Regions from separate parts of the Homo sapiens genome. Here region 2 is linked to region 1. The links come from fine-mapping of genetic effects on gene expression. Tissue or cell type: lung. Region 1 holds a variant in brackets; the other region holds the start of a gene. All regions are shown on one strand. Distances are from middle to middle.

Evidence for each region. PIP is the estimated chance that this variant, and not a neighbour inherited with it, causes the effect.
Region 2: HAPLN1 starts here. The variant in region 1 is fine-mapped to the expression of HAPLN1 in lung (TOPMed, PIP 0.92).

The regions. Positions count from the first base shown.
Region 1 is chr5:83,669,109-83,677,297 of GRCh38, forward strand. It overlaps HAPLN1 (hyaluronan and proteoglycan link protein 1), which reads right to left. Exons shown (of 5, transcript NM_001884.4): 2 at 4,316-4,441. The coding sequence starts at 4,415. Among named protein-coding and RNA genes, the nearest start is that of HAPLN1, 48 kb to the right of the region's middle. The variant C/A (reference allele first, on the strand shown) is at 4,629.
Region 2 is chr5:83,717,497-83,725,685 of GRCh38, forward strand. It overlaps HAPLN1 (hyaluronan and proteoglycan link protein 1), which reads right to left and starts at 3,359. Exons shown (of 5, transcript NM_001884.4): 1 at 3,293-3,359. RefSeq lists a silencer at 4,944-5,003.

The sequences.
Region 1 (8,189 bases):
ATCTGTGCTCACATAGTAAATACATTAAGGGAAAATATTACTTATGTTTGGAGAACTTTAGTTTCTACCAGGAAAGTAAAAATGGTCAGATAATATTTAATGTGACTGGGGAGGCTGGGCGTGGTGGCTCACACCTGTAATTCTAACACTTTGGGAGGCTGATGTGGGCTGATCACCTGAGGTCAGGAATTACCAGCCTGGCCAACATTGCAAAACCCCGCTGCTACTAAAAATACAAAGAGTAGCAGGGCACTGTGGCAGGCACCTGTAATCCCAGCTACTTAGGAGGCTGAGGTAGGAGAATCTCTTGAACCTGGGAGGCAGAGGTTGCAGTGAGCCAAGATTGAGCCATTGTACTCCAGCCTGGGCGAGAGAGCAAGACTCCGTCTCAAAAATAAATAAATAAATAAAAATTAAAGTAATAATATGAATGGGGACATTTTAAATTGTGAAATTAAAGAAGGCAAAGAAAAGAACTTATAAAATGTTTACTTTATTAGAATTAAGGTGATGATATGTTCTGTTAACAAATGTACTTTGAAAAGCATGAATTTTTTTGACCAGTATTTGTAGTCTGTTTTCTATTTAAAAATCAATTTTCCATAACAGGGAGGAAGCAATAAACATAATGATAACAACCACCTGGATAAGTATTGGCTCTTGGGAACCAGGCACTGTACTAAGCACTTTCCACATATTATCTCATTTAATTCTCACAAAGCTCTATTGAATAAGCAGGCATTAGGTCTGATTTTACAGAGGGGTAACTGGGATTTGGAGAGATTAAGTAAATTTTCCAAGGTCTAAGCTAGTTAGTGGCATTACAGGAAAGACTGAAACTTGTCATCAGAAGACCTCTGCTTGAACACCAAATGCAGGAAGCACTGACTCTGACCTTGATAAGGTCAAGTAGTTACATGTTCATCTATTTTGCTTTGCATATTGGTTAATAGGCAAATGGTCATAAAATTTCTCTGTTATCTGTAAATGTCTTCTAAAAAGTTGTATTTTGAAGAGTGTATTCATCATCTCTAAAATTCTATGGTAGTTGAAAGGCTACACAAAAGTTTTTGGACCTGATACAAATATTATAAATATTATTCTTTCTGTGTGATTTGATACTCCATGTAAAACTCTTCCTAATGGTCTCAAGTTTCAAAGGATTTAAAAGTAAAGTAAAGTAGCCACATTGTGACATGAGGAACAAAATCCATTAGTTTAGTGTATAGAGAGGATATTAACAGTGGCCCCTCTTCCTGTAGAGGTATTTGAGAACATAACTATTGCCTACATTGAGGACAGTATGTTATATACAAGCTAATATCTTGATTGCATATTTTTAGTAGACTTTGTGGACAAATGAAGTTTGCTTTCCTGTATGATCAAATTATTTCAATGAAAAATTAAAGGAAATGGATTAGTGTGTGTGAAATTTTTATCTAAAGCTAAGTCTTTTTCCATGGGAAGCTGGGAGAGATTTCTTTCTCATTACCAGAGAAATGTTTTTCACTAGAAATACCTTGCATAGGGGTCTACACTTGCTATTTTCTTTCCTGGCCATCTGCCTTTTTACCTTTGTTTTGTGTGTGTGTGTGTGTGTGTGTGTGATGGAGTCTCGCTCTGTTGCCCAGGCTGGAGTGCAGTGGCACCATCTCGGCTCACTGCAACCTCTGCTTCCCGGGTTCAGGCAATTCTCCTGCCTCAGCCTCCTGAGTAGCTGGGATTACAGGCACCTGCCACCACGCCCGGCTAATTTTTGTATTTTTAGTAGAGACGGGGTTTCACCATGTTGGTCAGGCTGGTCTCAAACCCCTGACCTCGTGATCCACCCGCCTCGGCCTCCCAAAGTGCTGGGATTACAGGTATGAGCCACCATGCCTGGCTTTCTTTCTTTCTTTCTTTTTTAATATCCAGATTAAACTTTTTTGTGTGTGTCTATATCTCTATAAAACCTCCCACAACAAAATTATGAGGAGGCTTCAGAAAAACAATTAGCTAACCCATACACATGGAACTCAAAAATGTATCATTAAAATGTTGAGCTTCTGCATCAAGGCAGCCAACAAAAAGTTGAGGCTGATTTGCACAATTTTCCCAATGTTGTTCAGACCTTGGGAACTTGGAGTACAAAAATAGAAATCTAATCAAAAATAGGAGAGAGTAATGATATTTTTACAGCAACGTGAATTTTCAACTATTTTCCATCACTAACAGAAGCTCATACTGCTTATCAGTACCATTCAAGAATCTGAGATTGAGATAGCTAATTTAATCATCTGACTAAATTCTTCAAAAAATTTGTGAGGATTTCAGCTCCCTAAAATTCCTTCTGGGCTATGTTTGATAAATAAAAGTTTTAAATATAAGAAAATATGCAGTATTTCAAGTAAGTAACGAAGCAAGTAAGTAATCTGCTTTGTTGATTCTTGTGCTACCTGATTTATTTTTGCATTATAAAAAACAGCTGGAATTATGGAAGGTCACTTGGAAGCAGTTTCTCTGAAGAACTATGGGATTTGAAAATTCAATCTGAATGCTATCACAAAAAAATTGTTGGGAAAAAAGTAATGAGAACAGGTATTTCATTTACGGGCATAACATCATAATCCTATGACCCAAATCACATTTCAGCATTAAATTTCCACAAGCCAAATATAGTTCTATTACTTGAAAGCTCTTTAGCAACTCTTCGAGGCAAGCCTGCACTTTCTAAGAATATGAATTTACAATTAAAATGAAGTGGACTATCAAGCCTTTTTAAAAATGTGGACAGTGTATGCAAATAATCTGGATAATCCTGATACTCTGGGTCAGAAATCCCCTTGCACTAAGTTTCAACAGAGGAGATGGGAATGGAAAGGCTGGAGTAACAGAAGTTTTCCTTCCTGAGATAACTTGAGTCTGACTTATAGGAGTAATTTTTCAAATGTTAGTACATTTTTAAAACACTATTCTCATACTCTGAGTGCAATTTTCATTAAATGGTTTGTACACAATTCATAATACAACTTTGGTATCTGTCATCTAATAACTTGAAACCATGGCTTAAGTTTCTATTGCATTGGGTATAAAACTGGTATTATTAATAACGACTAGGTATTACTATTTTGGCTGAATTGAATTCTGTCACTAGAATTCTGTCACTAGAAGGTAAAAGGGTATTATTCCTCATTAGAAATCTCTATGTGTAAATATCATATGGTCTTTGGGAAACAGCTCTGATTCTACTATATATTACAGAAACAGCTGAGTCAGCAGCTTGCAGAGTAAAATGTATGATTACAATTTCTTTTCTCAGTTCAACAGAGAAAAAAATAAAGCTGTTGGAAGCAAACAAAACTAAAAGAGATGTGTCTAAAATAGCTAGACATAGACAAATTCAGAATTCTATTTTGGTAGTCATAATACGTACAGGAAAATACTTCTAGACAGATTTACACTATCATTTGACCTTCACAAGTCATACTTTTCACAGTGAATGCAGTTTACTGAGGCTACGCTTTTGACCTTGAAGATGTAACTTAGAGTTTTATGTCTCTTAGCAAACTTATCATGCCTCTGGTACCCCAATGGAGTTTATCTAAAATTATCATCATCTGCTTAAACTGTTAAGTTCTATAATTCCTTTTTTAATTATTCAGCATCCAAGGGCAAGGAAAGAACTGTTCCTCTTATTGCATAAGTCTCAGCTTTCTTAATGCAGGATGTCCCTCATCTGAAGCTGGGACTGAGGAAATAGCTGCATTGTACTGCAGCCTCAAATCCTGCTACAGCTCTCAGGCTTAGGAATCAGCTGAGCTGAACAGAAATGTGCAGGGGCAATGTATTGGTCTATAGGAGCTAAAGCTTAACTGAAGCAGATTATAATAGGGTAAACTACTTTTTCCTGGACAATAGCTTGTCTAATTTTCATTTTATTTATATTGTTTCTCTTAATGATTAAACAGTTACTCTAACAGAATGACCTTATATCCTAAGTTTTACTTCCTATTTTCTCTCTCTGACTTGCATTTAAATGAACTTTATGGCCTCCATTTTACTTGAAGATAGCAACTGCACTTAACAGCCTTGAACGATTATACCAACTCACTGCAGCTGGACATTCTTAAGCTACTCAACTTTAATTGTCCCCAATTCTTAACTCTACTGTAATGCAATAGTGTTTAAAAGCCAGGGAACACGTTCACCAATTAGCAGAAAGGGAAAGAAAAAGTCAATGCAGCAGAACTAAAATTAAGAAACACTAGCCCAGCATCTCAACTCTAAGTAACTTAAAATTAATTAGGCTTTGATAAGAGAAGCTGTGTTTCCTTACCTTGGATGTGAATAGCTCTGTCATGATCCAGAGTATAGTTGTCTGAAAGATGATCAGCCCAGCAGATTGAAATCAGCACCAGAAGAAGTAGACTCTTCATCTTTATAGCCCAAAGAATCTTCTTCACTGCGAGAGCATCACATACAAAGAGGCTTGTGAGATTTGGAACCCTTTGGAGTGTTGCACTGCACAACTTATTACCGCCTTATCATCATAGAATGGGTCTGTAAAAATATTTAACCCAATCTGTTCAGAAAGTTACTGTAGCTGCCTTTAAGAGCCGAAGACGGCAGCTTTGAACAATTCCTGCTAC[C/A]ATCATGTAGCCAGAGTCCAAATAGTGTTTAACTCTATCTTTGCAGAATTGTAAATCTAGAAATTTAAAACACTGTAGTTTGGATAGAGAATTACAGCAAGTAACAAAGAGATGTGGCAAAAACATACACACTCTTAAAAAAATGTAAGCCTCTGAATTTGCAACATAAGTTAATAAAACAGCAATGTGTTATGTCTGTATATGAGTATCACTTGGTCTAATTAGAAAGTGAATCTAAAGCCAGGGCAAATAATATTTGCATGAAACTTGACATCGTCATTCATTTTACATGTGGCTTCCTAAGAAGGTTAGACTTGCTTGTTCCAAATAGAAAAGAGGACCAAAAAAAAGTGCCCGATTAAGCAGAAGCAGCACATTTGTTACAGATTCACTTACCATCTTACATACTGCTTGGGTCTACGGTGAATAGTTGAAAATTATGAACAAACTAGGTTAGAGTTGTGCACGCTACCACTGCAGTCATCCTGATTGATTTTTCATTCATTTCAACCTAAAATGCTGACGCACCAACTTAGAGTGCCAGGTAGGGTCTCTGCAGTCAGCGGATCCACGGCTGCAGGGAACGTCCCTGCCAGCCTCCCAGGGCAATTAGGCAAATGAAAAGCTGAAACAGACAGGGAGGCACAGATCTGGTCCTAAGTGAAAAAGGCAGAGCCATCACTTGCCTGTCCTTTATTGAAAGACCAATGTGATAAAAGGGGACATAACCTCTTCCCTCCCAAAAGTTTGTCATTGGAAGAACCAAAAGTGATTCTAAGTGATACGAACCTTATAACCTTTGCAGTATTTGCCAGGCAAGGATTTCAGTGGAGCTTCTTGGTTTTAATGTGGAAGCTGACACGAAAATTAACAAGGACCTTCTATTTCTCTCATGCACACAGCAGCCTTGACAATACCGGCTATTTTTAAAACTGAAATTGCACAGTACTGGCTTCTCACACTAATTTGTTTTTTCCAAGAAAGCCTGACTCCCTGGGATACTTATTAAAGAGCTCTGAGTCTGTTCCTGGAGGTCCTTGTAGGAGAGCCTCTACTCCAGAACCTAATTCACTTATTCACAGAAGGTCCCCAAGTCTCTTCTGAGACTGAAACATGTCTCTGTATTTTCCCCTGTGAAGATTTGCACTACTGTGATGCTGATGGCTTTAGTCTTTCACGTTTGCTTTAAATCTTTTCTTTTTCTTCATTATATCACATAAAGAAGATGGTAGATAAGCAAACAAATTGTGAAATTTATTTGTCAAGGAAACCAAGAATGTTAGCTTCAAAATTCTACCTGATTTACTAGTCTTATTTTCAGAAGTTCACTTCCTTGTTCCTCTAAGAACTTTTTTGAAATGCTTATTTTTGTTGTTGTTGTTGGTTGTTTGTAGTCACTAACTTTTGTCCACAAAATTACAGTTTAAAATATTACCTATTTTCAGCCCAGGATTGTGCTTTGGGTGAACAAATATAAAGGTGGCCTTTTGGAATTTGGAATATAATTGAGATAACTGTAAACACAAATATGAAACAACAGACAAACAGTACCAGAGTTGTGATGTGCTCTCTGCTTGTTTACAGGAATCAGAGAAGGGGCGCTGTGGAGGAGAGAGTATAAAGAAGGTGTATAATTTAACAATCAAACACAGGAGACATTCTAGATGAGGAGTCAAGATGAGCAAAGGTGGAGAGTTTGCTAAATTAATGTTCACGTTAGTGTGGTCATGTATAGTGTAATTTATAGGGAGCTGTATATGATACACACACTAGGTTAGAGTTGTTTATCCTACCACTGCAACCATCTTGAATTTCATTCGTCTTAAAAATATATGACACATCTATCTATGTATCTCCTTTAGTTCCATACCATAGTATTTAAAATTATACTACTAAGGGTTCATTCCAATGTGTTAAAGTACTGACTATCCAACAACCTAATTTAAAATTGTAAACGTCTTGAGTGCTTGTGAGGGAGTATGGGGAATAAACAATGATAAAAACACCTTTCATGGAATGTCTACTGTTCGCCAGCACTATAAGCAGCATTTTGTCTGCAATGGCTCATGGATTCCTTAGAACAATAATGTGAGACAAATATTTCCATTTCTTGGGATACAGACAGTAATCTTGCTGGAAGGTACACATCTAGTAAGTGGCAAAGTCTGTATTTGCCTTCAAGCAAATTTAATTTGTTATGTCTTTTGTTGCCTTTTTAAATTCAAGCTCTTTAACTTACAACTATGATCTTAAGACTTTGACTTGTGTTATATATGAATATAAACATTTTTCCCAAGACTTACATATTGAGAAGGCAGTCAGGTGGTATTTTTCTTAACATGATTTGCCCTGCCTCATTAATTATATCACTCTGGTACCATGAACAAAGTCTTGGTGGTTCACATGTGTGCACACATACACAGAGATATGCACACATACACAGAGATACGCACACATATACAGAGATACGCACACATACACAGAGATACGCACACATACACAGAGATACGCACACACAGAAAGATAGATACATACCATCTTTGAAAAATTCAAGTATATTGGACATCTGCAGTAACTTGTGATTAGAGGCCTCTATCAGTGAATACTTTAGAGTACCCTGTGCTGGATTCAATACAATCCAGGGAGGTGAGAATGGAAATTATCTTTGTTACTCTGGTAAGCACAACAACCATCTCACCAGTAGACATGAAACTAGAAAAGTATACTTTAGGGTCACAGTCTTCAGGTGTCTGAGCAATAAGCTATATAAAACAAGGTGCTGCACACCAGACTGAGGTCATTGAGGTCAAGGGCTGTGCCACGGGTCTAAGTGCTGGTCCCAGTAGAAAAGGACACCTCAGACATAGTAGGTGGTCATGTGAGTAAATAAATCTGAGTCCTGCTTGTTTGCATTTTGTAATCATGCCTCCTCTTAATGTCTAGGTATGTTAGGTAAAAATTTGCAGTTTTTGATATGAGCTAAAATTTAGACAATCGGGGAGACTTTTCCACAACCAGCTATTATCAACTCCTGAATTAGTGCTCTCAGTTCACCTGCAATTCACACATTGAAGGTCTCTTTTCACAGCCTTACAAATCTTAATGCTCGATCAGCCAGCTTCAAGATGAATCCAAACTGAAATGTCTATGTTCATAGTCAAAGACAGATAATAGGAATGTAATTTTACAGTCCTGCTTTGTTGATAATTGAAGCATGATTTGGAAGCAATATACCTTATCCAATGTGAAAGAGTAATAGTTTGATAGAAATGCAGATATACTAATATCAACAGTCTAATACCAAGATGGTCAACTGCTATTTCTTAAGTGTCTACTACATTATCATTATCATATTAGGTAATGGGGAGATCAAACCAAGTGAAAGGCATGTGTGCTACTTCATGTGCCTTGAGAGCTAACACTACATATTTCCTGAACTGCCATTTCTCAGAACAACTCAATTGAGGTAAGTATGTTGTTAGACACATTTTACAGCTCTAGAAGTGGAGTCTTAGGGTGGTGAGGTACCCAGCATGTACAACAAGGAGCTGGTAGTCTGGG
Region 2 (8,189 bases), 48 kb after region 1:
ATTTTACCTTCCTATATGAATTTCACAACTTGTATTGATTAATGCTGATTGTCCTGATCACTGTTGCAATTGTCACATAACTTGCAAAGAGCCAGTTGGAGTGATAATTCGTATATCTTTTAAAGAAAAGGTTTTTAAAGCTCTCAGTGCAATACTCAAATGGACTAATCTTCTATGGTATCTTAATGCTTCCTTCAAGTGGTGGTTTTCCATGTAATTGTTTTTGTCTAGAATTTTTTTTCTATTAGATCAACTTCATGGAAGCCAGGTTCCTGCTTCAAAACTCCAAGTGAACAACAAGTATAGATGAAGTTGTTTTACATGCTAATTATTAGTGTTTGAGAGCAATATTTTATAAAATAGACCTCATTACTCAAAAACAACTTGTACTACTATCCTTTCCAATTTAATAAAAAAATCAAAGAATATGAAACAAAATGTGCAGCTGTGTGGTAACCTTTTAAGCTAGTAGTTATTTTCCCAACTAAATTCAGTAACATTAAACCTTAGAGAAATTTATTTCTATTTCAGGAACAGTGATTTAAGATGGTCAAACTCTTTCCACCAGTCCTTGAACAATTCCATGACCTGTCTGTCTAAAACAAATCCTATATTAGAAGTGAGTTGCAGTTATTAAGCTATATCCTTGTGGAGGCGGAAAGTTAATGGTAAAGTATCCAACAAAGAGTAAAGTGATCTTAAATACAACCAGTAGGGATTTCATAAACTGTTTAGTTGTACCTTAATTTTTAACTTATATAAACATCACTTGCTTTAGTTTCTACCCTGAGCACCTATCCCAATGTCTGGCGTGTAGTTAATGTTCAACAAACGTCAACCGAGGGAGTCAGAGTATTTTAAGAAGCCGGTGAGAAAGCCTTCTTTGACTTATCCACTAGGTGGCACACAGGGACCATGCTTCACACAGTTAACCACCACAGACCCTCCCATTCAGTGTAAATAAAGAGATGCATTATTAATTTATACCACCTCGTCCTCTCTACTCCTAATAATTGTTTAACCAGCTGTTTCCTCTAATCCTCCTTAAACACTATTGATTAAAATCCTAAGTATATTCAGGTTTCCATCCTTTCCTACTTCTTCCAACAGCATTTTGCTACCTTTAAATGACAGGCTAAGTACACTTAAATGACATAGACTAAGTACTATGGTTACTACTCATGGCTGCAGGATGTCAGAAAATTAATTTGAAGCACTATCAAAATTATTTTCAAATTTGCCTGGTATTTCGTCAGAATTTTAACTGGTGAGAGATCATGATCTTAAAAATGCAATCTGAAAAATAAAATGTGCATGGGGCAAAAAGAAATGAAAAAGAAAACTAGTATTTTCTAAGGAAGGGAGTCATTTTCTGAATATAACTTTTGTTCATCTTTACAAAGATGAAGTGCATTGCTATCTTAAGATTCAAAGGACTTCTTCAACTGTTCAGAAAATACCAATATTCCACACCTAAGATGCTAAAAGGCAGGATTGTTTAGTAGACCGTTTACTCATAAAGTATCTTTCTGTGTACTCTGAATGTATTTATCCTGGATGTGTTACTTGCTCCCAAAGGAAGGAAAAGGAAGTGAAACCACTAGGGATATAATGAATTGATTCTTCTCTGTGAAAGTCTCTTCAGTACTTCTAAATTACAGTGTCAGTCATTCCTCTGAGAGACAGGGCCTTGCTGAAAATAAATGGCTCATTTTATAAATAAGTACATAATGTTTCCCCACCTTCTTGTTTCTCATAGAAAGCCCAGGCCCATAAGGCATTCCTGTCGAGAATACTGGCCTCTGGGTACATTCCTCCTGTAGAGCAGTGGTCTGTTGAGGTTGTTGGTTATCTCTTGTTCATTTAATTAGCCTTAAGTAAAATTACTTCTTATCTAGTTCTGTTTTTAAGCTGTTTCCAATTTAGTGGAAGAGGTCATCAACAAAAGTATAAATTCATTTCTTAGCTGAAACAATTAAATTTTTTAAAATGGGTGGTATAAAAGTGACTAAAGACTAAAGCTAATATCTGAAGAGTCCTTTGGTATACATTATATTTTACTGAATGGAAGAGAAACTTTCATTTTTGTAGGTAAATGGAATTTGTTAACTGATATAAGAATTATGAATCATATCACATTAAAAATTCTCCAAAGATAACTACTATGATATACTTTTGATAGAACAATATTCCCATTCCATTAAAATACTGAAATGACTGAAATGTGTATAAAATCTCTGCAAATTTAGTACACAGAAATAATCACATAGAAATAGTTACCAGAAACTACAATTGTAATGAATAAATATTACATTCATTTAGAAATCAATCCACAGCCTTAATTTCTTAAGAACTATTAGCTTCCAAGAAGCCAGCCAGTATGTTTGATTTTATGACATCACACTGGAACATGTACAGGAACACTTTCCACCCTAAAAATTCCCAAATGTACTGGCCACTGTGTGTATTTTTCCAGTGATAAATGAAAATAAAGCAACTTATTCTCAAATTAATAAGCCATCTTATTTTGAACACAACAGTCACATTCAATGGAAGAAAACTACTTAATCGAAGCCCAAACAAGTTTAGGTTTGTTTTTGGTGGGGAACAGTCTCAACATACAAATAATTTCTTTAAGCAACTTTTAACAGTAATCTTAACTATGACTATAAATTCTCTTCAGTGCATTCAAATTATCCATCAACATCATTGTATATATGAAATGCATCATCATTCTATGATCTTAAGTTCATAATTAGCTGGAGAAGGAAGCCTGGGCCAAAAATGGCAACATTTCTAAGATTATTAATCTAACAGGTATTACCTATGCCTAAAGTAACTTTCTTTTTCACATAACCCTATATATTCTCTGAAACAAAATTCATAAGCCTGGCTGGACATTCCCATTCCTCACCTTTCCCTTCAGCCTATACTATCCTTGTTTCATCTCAGGTGCTATAAAAATGGTTGTTGAGATACAGATAGAAAAGTCACCACTTGGAAACCATGACCCTACCAGATTTACAGGAGCACTAGCAGAAGCTAAGATACTAGAGTTAATTCTTTCTCCATTTTTAGACTGAGCCTGTTTATTGTAGTGAAATATTTTATCCGACAATATGAAACTTTTTTAAAAGTTGAGGTGTCATATTAAATTCAAATGAAAACTAAACTCAAAAGAAAAGAATAAAATTTGTTTAATGTATATATACATTGCATGTGTATTGCCCTCTGAAATCTTAAAGGCACAAAGGTATAACCAAAAGAGGGGGAAACAATTTGCAAGTTTTACCTTGTCCTGAAATCCAGGAGTTCGGATGCTCTCAAGTTCTGCTTAAGTTGGAAGCTGGAGATCAAGTGAAGCTAGCGCTCTTTCTCCTCACCTTAAGTTTGTCTCTGGGCGAGTGTGAGAGTGTGTGTGTGTGTGCGTGTGTGAGTGTGTGTGCAGAATGTCTCTTTGTGGCGCTGGATGGCAGAGGTCCTGATCCTGGGAAGAAGGAGGCACTTTCTCACCAAGAGCAGAAGAAAAGCAAAGCGTCACCAGGAAAGTTCTCCTCCCAAATCCCCTAATTACAGCCTAATGTGCACTTCATGCAAACTTCAGGGAGGAAGGGAGGGGCAGCTCTGTGCCCAGACCTTGTAAAGCAGCAGCCTCTTAGATGACTTTCCCCTCTGCTCAGATCCCGAGTATCCCGCTCTGGGGTTTAGGAAAGCCGGCCGCTACAGCCACACAAGCCCCCACCACACCACACCTCCCGAACCCGAACCCTCATCAGTCCTGGGTCTGTCCAGAAGGGATGGGACAAGGGGTCTGTGGAATGATCTGCGGGGCAGCGGTGTGAGCAGACTCCTCAGGACAGTCAGTTTGCGCTTTGTTTTATTAGCCTCTGCTTAAAAGAAAAATCCAAGGGTCGGAGAGGTCCTCTCTTTCCCGCCTTCCCCTCACCAAAGGAGATCAAGGATAACAGACAATGATGATAGTGGCACATAAAGCTTCTTAAACTGGAGATGGCCTTCCACCCAAATCACCAGAAGCATATTTTCTGGTTTACTGGACTCAGTATTGGTGTTGAGTTTAAATTTCTCTTAACAAACAACTGCTATTGTATCCTTGGATGACAGAGCTCAAAGAACCTGGATTTATTTATAGAACGAGGAATGCGAGGGGGAGACGGGATGGGTGGGGTTGGGTTGTGGATCCATAACCAGGATTAGAACCAGATGGGCACAGGGCGCGCGCGCGCACACACACACACACACACACACACACACACACACACAGACACACACACCCCTGAAATAACCAGTGGGGAAGATGCTGGGACACGCGGGAAAACGCCTCCTGAACAAATAGACGTTTATTTATAACTTCTGGGAGAGTATATAGGTCCATTGATTCCCGCCTTGAGTAACCAAGGGTTTTGGAGAGGAAATGGCTTCATATTTCAATAACAGAGCCACCTTTGATGGAGTCTAGGAAGGGGAAAAAAGAAACACACCGCAGGAAGCAAACGGCTGTTGGAGCAGCCGGGAGGAGGGAGCGGGGCTGGCCCTGGGACTGAGGACAAGCAAACAAGCTCGAGGGGCCCGCGGCCAGGGTGGAGGCGAGACGCAGGCCGTCCCCGAGTTGCAGCGAGCAGGGCCCGGTGTCGCGGAGCGCTGGGGACGTGCGGGGATTCGCGGCCGTGCTCCCGGCTCCAACCTCCGGCCCCGGCGGGGCGGCGCGGGCGGGACTGCGGGCTTCTTAAGGCCGCCGCCGCCGCTCGGGCTGTGGCGCGGGTTGGGGAGAGGGTTCCGTGGGCCGTAGGGACTGAGGGAGTCGTAAGTCGATGAGCTAGTGGGGCAGGAGGATGGGCGGGTCCAGGGCGTCCTGGAGGTGCAAGGTGGGATGGGAGGACCTGAGGGGCAGCCAAGCTGCTGGGGAAGCCGCCGGGACGGGGGCTCTGGCCGACAATGCAGGTGGCCGGTGTGCAGATGAGCCAGCGCGCGGGGTGCGGCCGCCGGGATGCCCGATCCGAGTCGCGCGGGTGGCGGCGAGCGGCGCTATTGTCTTAAAGATAAAGCCTAAGCCACGGGGACTGCCTCCTCCTGGACTCTGGAGAGAGGCGGGAGAGATTGCAGGGGAAAAAAGGCTTCTTCCCGCGTCTTCTGAGAGATTTCACCAGTTCTTGCCTCTGGGCTCCCCCTTGCCATTCTGTCTTTGGTAAATCAACACGTGCCTCTTGGAAAGGTTTCATTTCAAAGACAAACGGAACACTCACACACCCTCCCTAAATGAAGACAGTTATATTCAAAATGAATTCTTCATCAGGCGTTCAACACCTTTCTTGGAATTCCAAAACCTGGGTGAGGGCGCTTCTCTTATTTTTCTGTTTCCCCTCCCGCACAGGGAACAGGTTTTGCAGTTTTATGTCCCTAATCTAGTGGCTATTGAGGCAGCTGTTATATAGGCCTCTACATTAACTGCCAATAAAAATAAGATACATCTCGGCTTTTCAACTATGCAAAGGGTTTTTATGCTATTCATATTTCTTGTAAACGTTCAGGGTGGTGTGTATTTTAAAGAACATAAACGAATTAGACTTATAAACAAATATCCAATTTTTATATTAAAGCACCATAAAGGTGGTAAGGCTGGTGGTGTGTGGCTATGATATCATATAAAGACAGTTTAAATACCGATCTTGTTCCCTCAGCTTAACAACCTAATTTCTGGCGATTGCCTGGAGCGTAAATCAAATCAGCTGGCTCATGGCTGGCACTTGTTCCCCTATTTTGTGGTCTGCTCTATACACTTATTCCGGCACAACATTAAGATAATTTAATGTATTCTCTTCTGAAATTGTTTAATAACCACCCAAGACAATCTATTTTGCAACTTAGTCACACCATGGTGAGCTACACTAGATTTTTTTTCAATCTCAGGTATAGCCGCAACTATTGAGATAGACTTCCAGAAATAATGACAGGTACTTACCTCTGAGTCATCCTGTCCCTCCTGATCCTCCCCTATTTCCAGCCTTCCCTTCCCCATTGCCTCCTTACTAGTCTTTGTTAAAGATCCCCAGTCTTTTTAATCACAAATATTTAACCTATCAATAGTGTGTATTTGAAGTGTTATTCAGGCTTAATTTAATTGACGTTATATACATTTTTCCATTCGTTTTGGGGTTCACATGGTTTTCTAGTTATTTAAATTTACATTGGAATTAGCTTTAAGAGTCTTTTAAAAAGATTTTTATGTTCAGTTAATTAATGTTCAGCCAAATTGTGCTTTATGGAGGCATACATTACTTTGATTAGCCCTTATAGTTTTTCATCAGGGCACAGGCATTATAATAAGCCATGGTAAAAAATCAAATCAAGTAAATGCAGGAATAAATACAACTCTATTTTCATGACTAAATATTTTACAAAGATATAAATTGTAAAAATAATTTTTGAAGACCAAAATATCTTCTTAAAGAAAACCATATCAAAAAAGTATTCTGTATTTGAAGATTTCCTGTATTTATTAACATTAGTAAGTCATGTGGAAATTCAAATCTTTCCTTTGTTAAATCAAGGTTAGCCTAAAGCTGTCTTCTTACATATTTTAAGTTTGGCCTAAAGGTTTCTCTGTACATTGTGAACTATAACCTGAATGGAATTGTAAACAGACTGTAGCCTGCTCTTGTGGCAACACTGAGCTTTGGCCAATCACATGTGGCCAACTGTTCAAACCCTGTTCAAATAAGGCAAAGGTGGAGCTATAACCAGTCCGGGGGTTTCTGTACCTCACTTTCCTTTTTCTGCCCATAAACCTTCTACCACGTGGCTGTGTTGGAGTTTCTGAGCCTGCTCTGCCTCTGGAGACTGTTGGAATTGTTCTTTGCTTAATCAAACTCTTTTAAATTTAGTTTTGCTAAAGTTTTTTTTTTCCCTAACACATAGCATATTGAGGTTTGTTTTATTTGCTTTTTTAATTTAGAGAAGGCAAATAAGCCATTTTTTTAAGTTTCAAGAAAAACCAAACTTTTTTTTATTTTTCAATAATATATTTTGAACTATTTCTCATTCTTATTAAATAATCTGATGTTAAACAATATTATTTCAAAATATGCTGATGTATTTATATTATATAAAATTATATATCAAAATATTCTATATATAATATATACAGCATATTTTGAAATGATGTTTAATGTAATACAACAGTATTTTATAAGAATGAAAAACAGGTTAAAAAATGGTGTTATAAAATGTAACTTTGCATTCTTTTGCTAATTGTAACACAATTTGAGTAATTAGGTTGAACCAGATAAAATGGAATATTCAACCTTTTTTGACCTACCAAAAAGCAATTTCAGCTGGTTTCACCTTATACAAATTTGAATATGTGTGTAGCATAAGTGTAGCAGGAACATTTTCAACTTTTAAAAAAATATTGATCTGCAATATCATGAATATTTAATATGTAATAAATTCCCAAGCAGAATAGTATGCCTGCTGGCATATTACACTCGTAACAAAATATACATTTATATTCAAAAGGGGATTATCTAAATTCATCTCCTCTTCAAACTCCAAAAGAGGCTGCTGTTATCCACTAAATTCCAGAGAATTGCTTCCCTCTGAGCACTTGTTTCCTGGAATTTTTGCCTCAGGCTGACATTATATCTGATTGAACATCTGCTAGGATAAAGGTTCAGCTTCGTGCACTTTGGAGGTACTGGGGGGAGGAAAGCCATTTGACCTTTCCTGTCTGAGGGCTCAGAACTTCATTAAAGCACCTCCTGGGATTGTGGGCATAGCCATGAGAAAGACACCATTTGTAATTAAGTCCTTCCCACTGGCTATATTCCTGTTGAACTCGATGATTAAAATACAAATTCAATATTCTAAATGGTCACAAAGCATTTGATAAAAGGTTATTTTGCTTTTAATGCAATGAGGGGGAGGGATGACTTTCCAAGAGCCCACTTTTTGTGCTCACTCTCAGAAAGTGTCCAGCAGACAGACTCTTCAAAAGGGCATGCTAAATAATTAGGCAATAAATTGTTCAAATGTTAAGAGCAGAGCTGTTCCAGAAGCTACTGAGGCCAAATGAGTCCATCATACCAAGTGATAAATATCCTTGGCTCCTAAGAAGTAAGCGCCTGCTTGTCCCTATGTTGGTCTATTGAATTGGTTCTGGGTTCACAGCATCA